2 separate regions of the Homo sapiens genome follow, and region 1 is linked to region 2. The links come from fine-mapping of genetic effects on gene expression. A gene starts in region 2. The other region holds a variant in brackets. All regions are shown on one strand. Distances are between the middles of the regions.

The links. PIP is the estimated chance that this variant, and not a neighbour inherited with it, causes the effect.
Region 1: its variant is the best candidate, but not a certain one, in a credible set for the expression of EPHX2 in whole blood (TOPMed, PIP 0.74).

What each region holds. Positions count from the first base shown.
Region 1 is chr8:27,545,483-27,550,860 of GRCh38, reverse strand. It overlaps EPHX2 (epoxide hydrolase 2), which reads right to left. Exons shown (of 19, transcript NM_001979.6): 19 at 5,297-5,378. Among named protein-coding and RNA genes, the nearest start is that of EPHX2, 57 kb to the right of the region's middle. The variant A/G (reference allele first, on the strand shown) is at 3,040.
Region 2 is chr8:27,488,716-27,494,093 of GRCh38, reverse strand. It overlaps EPHX2 (epoxide hydrolase 2), which reads right to left and starts at 2,951. Exons shown (of 19, transcript NM_001979.6): 1 at 2,785-2,951. The coding sequence starts at 2,885. RefSeq lists a silencer at 2,868-3,147 and a cis regulatory region at 4,894-5,208.

The DNA.
Region 1 (5,378 bases), 57 kb before region 2:
TAAGCCAAAAGAACAAAGCTGGGGGCATCACACTACCTGACTTCAAACTATACTACAAGGCTACAGTAACCAAAACAGCATGGTACTGGTACCAAAACAGAGATATAGATCAATGGAACAGAACAGAGCCCTCAGAAATAACGCCGCATATCTACAACTATCTGATCTTTGACAAACCTGAGAAAAACAAGCAATGGGGAAAGGATTCCCTATTTAATAAATGGTGCTGGGAAAACTGGCTAGCCATATGTAGAAAGCTGAAACTGGATCCCTTCCTTACACCTTATACAAAAATCAATTCAAGATGGATTAAAGACTTAAACGTTAGACCTAAAACCATAAAAACCCTAGAAGTAAACCTAGGCATTACCATTCAGGACATAGGCATGGGCAAGGACTTCATGTCTAAAACACCAAAAGCAATGGCAACAAAAGCCAAAATTGACAAATGGAATCTAATTAAACTAAAGAGCTTCTACACAGCAAAAGAAACTACCATCAGAGTGAACATGCAACCCACAAAATGCGAGAAAATTTTTGCAACCTACTCATCTGACAAAGGGCTAATATCCAGAATCTACAATGAACTCCTATAAATTTACAAGAAAAAACAAACAACCCCATCAAAAAGTGGGTGAAGGACATGAACAGACACTTCTCAAAAGAAGACATTTATGCAGCCAAAAAACACATGAAAAAAATGCTCACCATCACTGGCCATCAGAGAAATGCAAATCAAAACCACAATGATATACCATCTCACACCAGTTAGAATGGCAATCATTAAAAAGTCAGGAAACAACAGGTGCTGGAGAGGATGTGGAGAAATAGGAACACTTTTACACTGTTGGTGGGACTGTAAACTAGTTCAACCATTGTGGAAGTCAATGTGGCGATTCCTCAGGGATCTAGAACTAGAAATACCATTTGACCCAGCCATCCCATTACTGGGTATATACCCAAAGGACTATAAATCATGCTGCTATAAAGACACATGCACACGTATGTTTATTGCGGCATTATTCACAATAGCAAAGACTTGGAACCAACCCAAATGTCCAACAATGATAGACTGGATTAAGAAAATGTGGCACACAGACACCATGGAATACTATGCAGCCATCAAAAATGATAAGTTCATGTCCTTTGTAGGGACATGGATGAAATTGGAAATCATTATTCTCAGTAAACTATCGCAAGAACAAAAAACCAAACACCGCATATTCTCACTCATAGGTGGGAATTGAACAATGAGAACACATGGACACAGGAAGGGGAACATCACACTCTGGGGACTATTGTGGGTGGGGGGAGAGGGGAGGAATAGCATTGGGAGATATACCTAATGCTAGATGACGAGTTAGTGGGTGCAGCACACCAGCATGGCACATGTATACATACATATGTAACTAACCTGCACATTGTGCACATGTACCCTAAAACTTAAAGTATAATAATAATAAATAAATTTAAAAAAAGGAAAGATATTCAACATCACTAATCATTAGGGAAATTCAAATAAAACCATCATGGGACATCACATGGCCATTCTATATATTAAAAAAACAGAAAATGGAAACCAGCTATGGAAAACCATCTGGTGGTTCTTCAAAATATTAAACATAGAAATTACAATATAATCTAGCCATTCCATTTTTTGATATATACCCAAAAGGACTGAATTCAGAGCCCTAAAGAGATATGTGTACACTGATGCTCAGAGCATTATTCATAATAGCCAAAATATGGAAGCCATCCAAGTGCCCATTGCTGAATGAGTAGGTAAACAAAACGTGGTCTATACATACAATGGAATATTATTTGGCCTTAAAAAGAAAGAAAATTCCAACACATGCGACAACATGAATGAACCTCGAGGACATTAGGCTATTTATTTATTTATAGAGATGGAATTTCCCTCTTGTCGCCCAGGCTGGAGTGCAATGGCATGATCTTGGTTCACTGCAACCTCCGCCTCTGGGTTCAAGCGATTCTTCTGCCTCAGCCTCCCAAGTAGCAGAGATTACAGGTGCCCACCACCACACCTAGCTAATTTTGTATTTGTAGTAGAGATGGGGTTTTGCCATATTAGCTGGGCTGGTCTTGAACCCCTGACCTCAGGTGATCCGCCCGCCTCGGCCTCCCAAATTGCTGGGATTACAGATGTGAGCCACCATGCCCGATCAAATTTTAATTATTTTAACTTGAAACTAATGCATTTGTCCATTCATCCATTTGTGCATATACTCTCCAATTTATTCAGCAAACGTCTAATGAGCATTTTACATATGCCAGGCCAGTGCTGGGTTGGGTTTCAGGACGAATTACTTAGACAGGCAGCCCCCGATCTCAGGGCCCTCACAGTCTAACAGGGAGACAGACAGTTACACATTTGGGTGCAGGAGTTGACACTTTACAATTGCTCAGGCAAGAAAGTATTTTATCATTTGTGGCCAGATGGAGTCCTTTGAACAGTGAGGCATAATATTTGTCACCCAATTCCTGTTGGAAAAAAACCCTTTGAGCCTCTGACCTAGATATTTTAACCATTGTTTGCTTTTAATTTGTATTGATGGTAATGTGGCTGTGAACGACACGGAAACTGGTGGACAGTCATGTCAAGGTCTAAAACCGTGGGTTCCCTATACCCCAAGACAGACAGAAATAGCTTTTTGTCCTGTCTAGTCTAATAGACTCACTTTTTAGAAGACGGGTCTCCTGGAAACCTTGGATGTTGCTAATTGACAGCCACTAAGTGGTCCTTCCTTGACAGAATATGTGAGTGATCTCAGCCTCCTCCCGGGAGCAGCACAACCCACTGCTGGAGGGTGTGAGAGAGAATATGAAGACTGCTGGACCTCTTTTTTAAGGGCCGATTTCTTTTAGCAGAGGGGAATATACTTGTAATCTATTCCCTTTGTAATCATGAAATAAAAATAACATATTTTTACTATTCAGCCACAAAAAAAGAATGAAATCTTGTCTCTCGCAGCAACGCGGATGGAAATGGAGAGCATTCTGTTAAGTGAAATAAGCCAG[A/G]AACAGAAAGTGAAACACCACATGTTCTCACTCACATGCAGAAGCTAAAAAAAAATTCATTTCCTAGAAGTAAAAAGTAGAATGGAGGATAGGAGGCTGGGAAGGGTTGGGGAAGAGGTGGGGGATAGGGAGGGATTTAAGGAATGTCAAATTCCAGCTAGATGGGAGGAGTAAGTTCTAGCGTTGTATAGCACTGAGCAATGACTACAGTCAACAATGATACATTGTTTTAAATAGCCAGAAGGAGGTTATTAAATGTCCTCAATACAAAAACGATAAATGTTTGAGATGACATGTGTAATTACCCTGATCTGATTGCTACACATTATATGTATCAAAACATCACTATGTACCCCATGAATATGTACTAGTATGTTAATTACAAATTAAATTCAATCCCAAAATATAGCATTTTATAATTAAATCATTTTGAACACACTCCTTGCCATTTGTACTTAAAATGGCATCTGAAAATCTTCCCTGATTGTTCCAGGGAATGCCCTGATACCACCACTGCAACAGTTGACGTGTGGCCCAAAGGTCCTCAAAGCAGACCAGGAAACATAGCCCTGGACATTCCACTATCTTCTTGAAAAACCTAAAGACCTCTTCCAGTCCACTGTCCTTTATGGCCCTTGATACGGTTTGGATTTCTGTCCCCACCCAAATCTCACGTCAAATTGTAATCCACGATGTTGGAAGTGGGGCCTGGTGGGCAGTGACTGGATCTTGGGGGCGGATTTCCCCCTTGCTGTTCTCGTGATGGTGAGTTCCCATGAGATCTGGTTGTTTATAAAAGTGTGTAGCACCTCCCCCTTCTCTTTCTCTCTCCCTCCTGTTCTAGACACGTAGGATGTGCCTGCTTCCCCTTCACCGTCTGCCATGATTGTAAGTTTTCTGGAGCCTCCCCAGCCATGCTTTCTGTAAAGCCTGCAGAACCGTGAGCCAATTAAACCTCTTTTCTTTATAAAGTAGCCAGTCTCCAGTAGTTCGTTATGGCAATGGGAGAACAGACCGATACAGCCCTCAATCTTGTATAACCAGTTATATTTTCTGGCAATGCTATGGAATGGAGTTATTCAACTCTTACTTGCCAAAGGAGCAGAATTTCTGAGGCCTTTTTGATGGCTGATGGAGATGACTGGATAGAATATTAAAAGCGAGACTTTCGGGAAGACAGGTTTGCTGTTTGTGCTCCTTCCAGTAAAGGACGCTTTTAGGTTTTGATTATTTCCTTTCCCCCAACTGCTCCCTTACAAATGAGCTTGAATACACCCAGTTAGGAAAATAATGTGATCTGGTGTAAGCCTTTCCCCCAGTCCTCATGATTGCCTTTAAATTAGCCCTTTAATTCTCAGATGCAAAAGATTGAGATGGTGGTGGCATGGCTGGAAATGGAAAGCCCTTAGAGGTCTTGTCCTAAGACAAACTGGAAATCTTATAGCTGATACTTCCATAGCACTTCCTCCATGCCAAGCACTGTTCTAGAACTCTGTGCATATTATTAACATACTTGATACAACCACCCATGAGTTAGGTCCTACTAACGTCCCCTTTTTTATAGATGAGGGAACTGGGGCACAGATATCCTTTTTCAAGGTCACAAGGCGAGTATGCAGCTGACCGGAGGCCTAACCTAGGTGGTCTGGCTCCAGATTTAGAAAGGAGAACTTCTCTTTTTTTTTTTTTTTTTGAGTCGGAGTCTCAATCTGTTGCCCAGGCTGGAGTGCAGTGGCGCGACGAGAACATTTTTTTGTAGAAAAAGCTCAGCCTTAGGAGCCAGAAAGCCTGCTTCTGAATCCAGGCTCTGCCCCCATCTAGCCAAGCAGTCCTGGGCAAATTATCTGAACCTCAGTTTCCCTCTCGGTTAAATGGGAAGGACTCTCTGGAAGGATCAGAGGTGGTGCATGGAAGACTCCAGGTGCACTAGGGCAGTGAAGAAATGCCAGCAGCCTCCATTTCAAACCTCTCCTGGCTTTCTCCCTATACACAGATACTCAGGCTCTTGTGACCTGGCCAACTCATGCCCGTCATCATGCCAAACTCAGCTTGGAGGGACCACTTTCTCTCGCAAGCAGCGAGGCCATTGTGCGTGCATCTGTGAGCCCGATAACCATGCAAGGGGGGCAGGCAGAAAGGGCTCGGAACCCAGCCTATGGGCTTGGAGGAGGTGGCAGGAGGAATATTCCAGGCAAAGAATGGGTAAGTTAGGCAGAGGGTCAAGGAGGATCAGCACCTGCAAGTGTGCTGCTGGAGGGCGGTTAGGAATTGGAGGGTGATGGGGCCGGGCTGGGGGTGGGCAGGGGCAGTTGGGGGAGGCCCTGCGAGTTTCAGGATCC
Region 2 (5,378 bases):
AAAATCATCACCTCCTCCCTGTTTAACAAACAGTCTGGGTTTTGTAATGGCAAACATACTCCCTGCATGACCATTCACCCCTGGACCCCCTGCAGCAGCGCCCCCACCACTAGTGTATGTCTTCTTATCCCCTCTTTCAATTACTCTCTTGGATGGTTCCTAGTAGATACAAAACGGTTTTTTCTCCAATGGGAAAATAGAGCACAGGGAGCCACTCAGTCTGCTCCCAACACCCTTTCCAGCTGCTCACCAGAGCTACCTTGGCAAGTACTCTAGGAGTGTGGGAAAATGAAAACAAACTCACACACCTTTTTAACATACACAACCAGTTTATTCTACCCAGCCAAGGCATATTCTTCTTATGTGGAACTTCAACCTATATCTGCCTCCCACCAGCTGGACAGGCACCTGCACCTTCTCCTAAGTCCCAACACTAACAATGCCACAGGAAATCAGACCCTATCAGTGCCCCTCAAAGCTCAAGTCTGTCAGCCCAGGACCATACAACTAATACCCCTACTTATAGGGCTAGGAATGCCCACTGCTACAGGAACCAGAATAGCCAGTTTAACTACTTCATTATCCTACTACCATACACTCTCAAAGGATTTCTCAGACAGTTTGCAATAAATAAATCTATCCTTACTCTACAATCCCAAATAGACTATTTGGCAACAGTGACTCTCCAAAACCGCTAAGGTCTAGACCTCCTCACTGCTGAGAAAGGAGGACTTTGCACCTTCTTAGGGGAGGAGTGTTGTTTTTAAACTAACCAGTCAGGGATAGTACAGGATGCTGCCTGGCATTTACAGGAAAAGGCTTCTGAAACCAGACAACACCTTTCAAATTCTTATACCAACCTCTGGAGTTGGGTGACTTGGCTTCTCCCCTTTCTAGGTCCCGTGACAGCCATCTTGCTATTACTCACCTTCAGTCCCTGTATTTTTAACCTCCTCCTCAAATTTGTTTCCTCCAGGATCAAGGCCATCAAGCTACAGATGGTCTTACAAATGGAACCCCAAATGAGCTTAACTCACAACTTCTACCGAGGACTGCTAGACTGACCCACTGGCCCTTTGACTGGCCTAGAGAGTTCCCCTCTGGAGGACACTACAACGGCAGGGCCCCTTCTTTGCCCCTATCCAGCAGGAAGTAGCTAGAGTGGTCATCACCCAGTTCCCAGTAGCAGGTGGGGTGTCCTGTTATGAGGGAGGATTGAGAGGTGAGGCCAGCTGGACTTCCTAGGTCGAGTGGGGACTTGGGGAACTTTCCTGTCTTACAAGAGAATTGTAAAATGCACCAATCAGCGCTCTGTAAAACGCACAATCAGCAGCATTCTAAAAGTAGCCAATCACGGGGAGGATTGAAAAAAGGGCACTCTGATAGGACAGAAATGGAACATGGGAGAGGACAATAAGGGAATAAAAGCTGGCCACCCCAGCCAGTAGCGGCAACCTGCTGGGGTCCCCTTCCATGCTGTGGAAGCTTTGTGCTTTCGCTGTTCACGATAAACCTTGCTATCACTCACTCTTTGGGTCTGCGCCATCTTTACGAGTGTAACACTCACTGCGAAGGTCCACAGCTCCATTCTTGAAGTCAGCAAGACCACGAACCCACCGACAGGAACCAACTCTGGACACAACTATAGCCTCCAACTCCTGGGCTCAGGCAATCCTTCTGCCTTAGCCTCCCAAGTAGCTGGGGCTACATGCATGCACTAATGTCTAGCTAATTTTATTTTTATTTTTGGAGAGACAGGGTCTTGCTCTTTCACCCAGGCTGGTCTTGAACTCTCAGCCTCAAGTGATCCTCCCACCTTAGCTTCCCAAAGCACAGAGATTACATGCCTTTCCCTCAAGCTACTTGCCATCTCATCTTCCTTACTATATTAAAAGCAAAGGCTCCGGACATGGACTACTGGGGTTGGATTTCTGGCTCTGCTCTTTAACAGCTATGTGATTTGGACAGCTGGTTTCTTTCTGTGCCTCAGTTTCCTCATATGTAAAAGGAGGATATGAACAATGGCTTCCATGCCTGGCCTTCTTTTTCACTTTATAAATAAGTATACTTCTCTCCTTTCTGAATGTGGGAATAATACATTGTTTATAAATTTAGAAGTTGGAAACTACAAAAAAAAAAAACACAAAAAAAAGAGAGAGAGAAAGAAAATCATTACATTATTCCTAATCTCATTTGATGTACTTTGGCCTATTTCTTTCAGGCACTTTTCTGCATGTACCTTTTTTCCATAGCTGAAACCATATTGTATAAATAGCTTCAGATTCTGGTGGGGTGGTTTTTTCATGTAGTAGAACAGGTGTTTTCCCAAGTCCCTGAGCTCTCACTCTGCACACCCCATCTACCATTTCCCAGTGATGTGGCTTTGGGCGGTTGCTGCAGTTTGCTATTACACAAGTAAGCATGCAACCCACACCTGGGGAGAGAACTTTCTTCTCTCCTGAATCTCGGCTCGCATCTTTAAGCGCCACCCCATTAGACAGGAGGCAGCAGAAGCACAAAGCTCCATGAGTAACTCCTCTCCCTTTTGGAAAAGTTCACAGAAAGCAATTTTGGAGACCTTGGCAACGTTTAATTATGAACATTTAGAAAGACAACGGATCTCCTCATATGCACTGGGACTTCAGGGCCAGGTCTTCAGTTTCATGATTCGCATGATTCGCAGGGCTCCGGCACAGGAGCAATCTGAAAGCTGGGCTGCAAGCCCAGCGCGGTCTGCCTCCTGAGGCCCCGACCCACTGCGGCGGCGGCGCTGGGCCCCCTTACCTGGGCAGCGCCAGGGCCTCCTCCGTGCGGCCGAGGACGCCGAACACCGCTGGCAGCGCCAGCACCCCGTCAAGGTCGAAGACGGCCGCGCGCAGCGTCATGGCGGCGGGTCTGCAGCCTAGCACCCGGACACGCAGCTAACCTGGGAGATGCGCGAAGGCCAGGGCGCATGACCCGCCCAGCTTGGCCCGGCTCTGCCCCGCCCCTGCCCTGGCCCCGCCTCCTCCCCACACCCCCTTAACGGGACTCCGCCCTCTGCCCGGGTTAAGGCTGGACTCTGGCCGGGAAAGAGGCAGGGGGAGGGGCACAGGAAAGGGAGTCAGAGGGAGAGGAAGAGGAGGCCGGGAAGGCGGGGACCCCAGGCTAGAATCTCGCCTCTGGATGTAACGCTTTCTACTGTCTCAAAGGAAAGTCCAAAGTCTCTTATGCCCCCTCCCCACGCCCCTGCAGTAGCTGCTTGAAGAGGCAAACCCAGGCCCGGGCCTTCCTGGACGGACTGACAGCTCCCTGCGAACTTGCTGGACTTGGAATGCCTGGGAAAGAGGCCACAGACTCTGTGTGTGTGTGTGTGTGTGTGTGTGTGTGTGTGTGTGTGTGTGTGTGTGTGTGTCAGCACATCCAGTGACTTCTACATTCAGAACATAAGACCGTGTTGGGGGGCGGGGGAGGGGCATATCCAGTGACTTTTCTAGATTCAGAACGAAGGATCACAGATCCCTCACTATCCTGACCACTCCTCTAGGCACGCTCTTCTTTGCCAAGGCAAATGTGTTTCTAGAATAAAATATGATGTTCCAGCTATCGTGTGCCAGCCCAGAATACTTCGATTTCAATCTCTTGTGGAATGAAGCTTAGAAGAACTAAATGTAGGCTATTATTTTCCTTTTGTACATGCTACTTGTAATAATTCTGTCTTAAAATGTGCGAGGTTTGTTTTTAATCACCGATTTCCACACTATTGGCTCGTTTATGTTCCTAGAAAAACTAAAACTTTGGCTGGGAGTTCTTGAGCTGTTGTAGTGCAGCTCCATGAATTAAAAACCGTGTCTTTGGTGGAGACCAAACAGAGTGAGTGAGGTCTCCAACAGTGGAGAATTTACTCTTGAATGTGTCTCTGTGGATTTATCCAAGATACCCTCCACCACGGAGCTTCAAGAACCTTGTGAGGGGTTGTCAGATACCTCACTGTAACTGGGAGGTCTACAACAGTCTCTGGATCTAGCAATCAACAACAGGATTGACCAGAGCCGTGGGTTTCCTCTGGGCTGTTTGCCCTTAGCAAGCTATGCTGTTGCTTCCTTCTCTAGCTTGGTAACCTCTTCCAGGCTCCTGCCTGGAGCAGTTATTAGTGTTTTCTGAGATTCTTGCCAAAGAAGCAGAGAGTGGCCAACACTGCCAAATGTTACAGGAAGAACTGAAAAAAAAGCTGTCCAATTTTGGACTTGGATGACACCGGATGTTTCAGAACACTTTTTGTGGGCCCTTTATGGTAGAAACTGGATTACTCTGGATTTGAAGACTGAAAGATAGGCAGAGAAGGGAGTACAGCAAGCTAGTTTCTCATGAAGTTAGTTGATCTCAAAGGTATAATTGAATTTTAAAAAATAGAAAGAAAATTGCAGCCTGACCTATATAGTATGAAACCTGTTAAATCTCCAGATTGGGCATGGTGGCACACACCTGTAATCCCAGCACTTTGGGGCTGAGGTGGGAGAATTGCTTGAGGCCAGGAGTTTGAGACAAGCCTGGGCAACAAAGCAAGACATTCTCTCTATAAAAAATAAAAATAAAATATTAGCTAGGCATGGTGGTGCATGCCAGTAGTCTCTGCTATTCAGGAGGCTGAGGTGGGACGATCACTTTAGCCCAGGAAGTGGAGGCTGCAGTGAGCCATGATTGTGCCACTGCACTCCATCCAGCCTGGGTGACACAGCAAGACTCTACCTCCAAAAAAAAAAAAGAAAGAAATTAAATCTCCAACTTAGAGTTTCCTTTGGGCTCCAGACTTGCCAACTTCTTACTCAACATCTTACTCAACGTCAATATCCAACTTCTTACTGAACATCTTCTCTTGAGTGTCTAACAGGCATCTCAAATTTATCATGGCTAAAACAGAACTCTCTCTGCATTTCTACTTCCCACGCCTGTTCCTCCTAGTGTGTTCCCTATCTTACAAACTGGCATCCCCATTGACTCAGTGGCTCAGTCCCGAGACCACGGAGTTGCTTCCAGATCCTTGGCTCCCAGCCAAACCATATGTTCGTGTTTCTAGCGGTGGCCTGCTGATTGAGGCAGAGATAGCAGCTTCTAGTTCTATGGTGGTGTTTTCTGGGAGTCCTTCCTAAAGGCTCAGTCTGGAGCTCACTCCTCCATTCCGTTCAAAGATTGTGTAGGCTTGCAGTCTCTCATCTTAAATCCCTTTCTTCTGTTTCTATTTAAAATAACTACAGTGATTTCTGTTGCCTGCATCTGAATTCTGCATCTAGCACAGTATTGCTTATGAATACGTAAGTATATTTATACAAGCAGTAAAGTGTAGAGGAACGACATACCTACAGAACTAGATTTCATAAAGCCCCCTTTTGAGAAGAAAA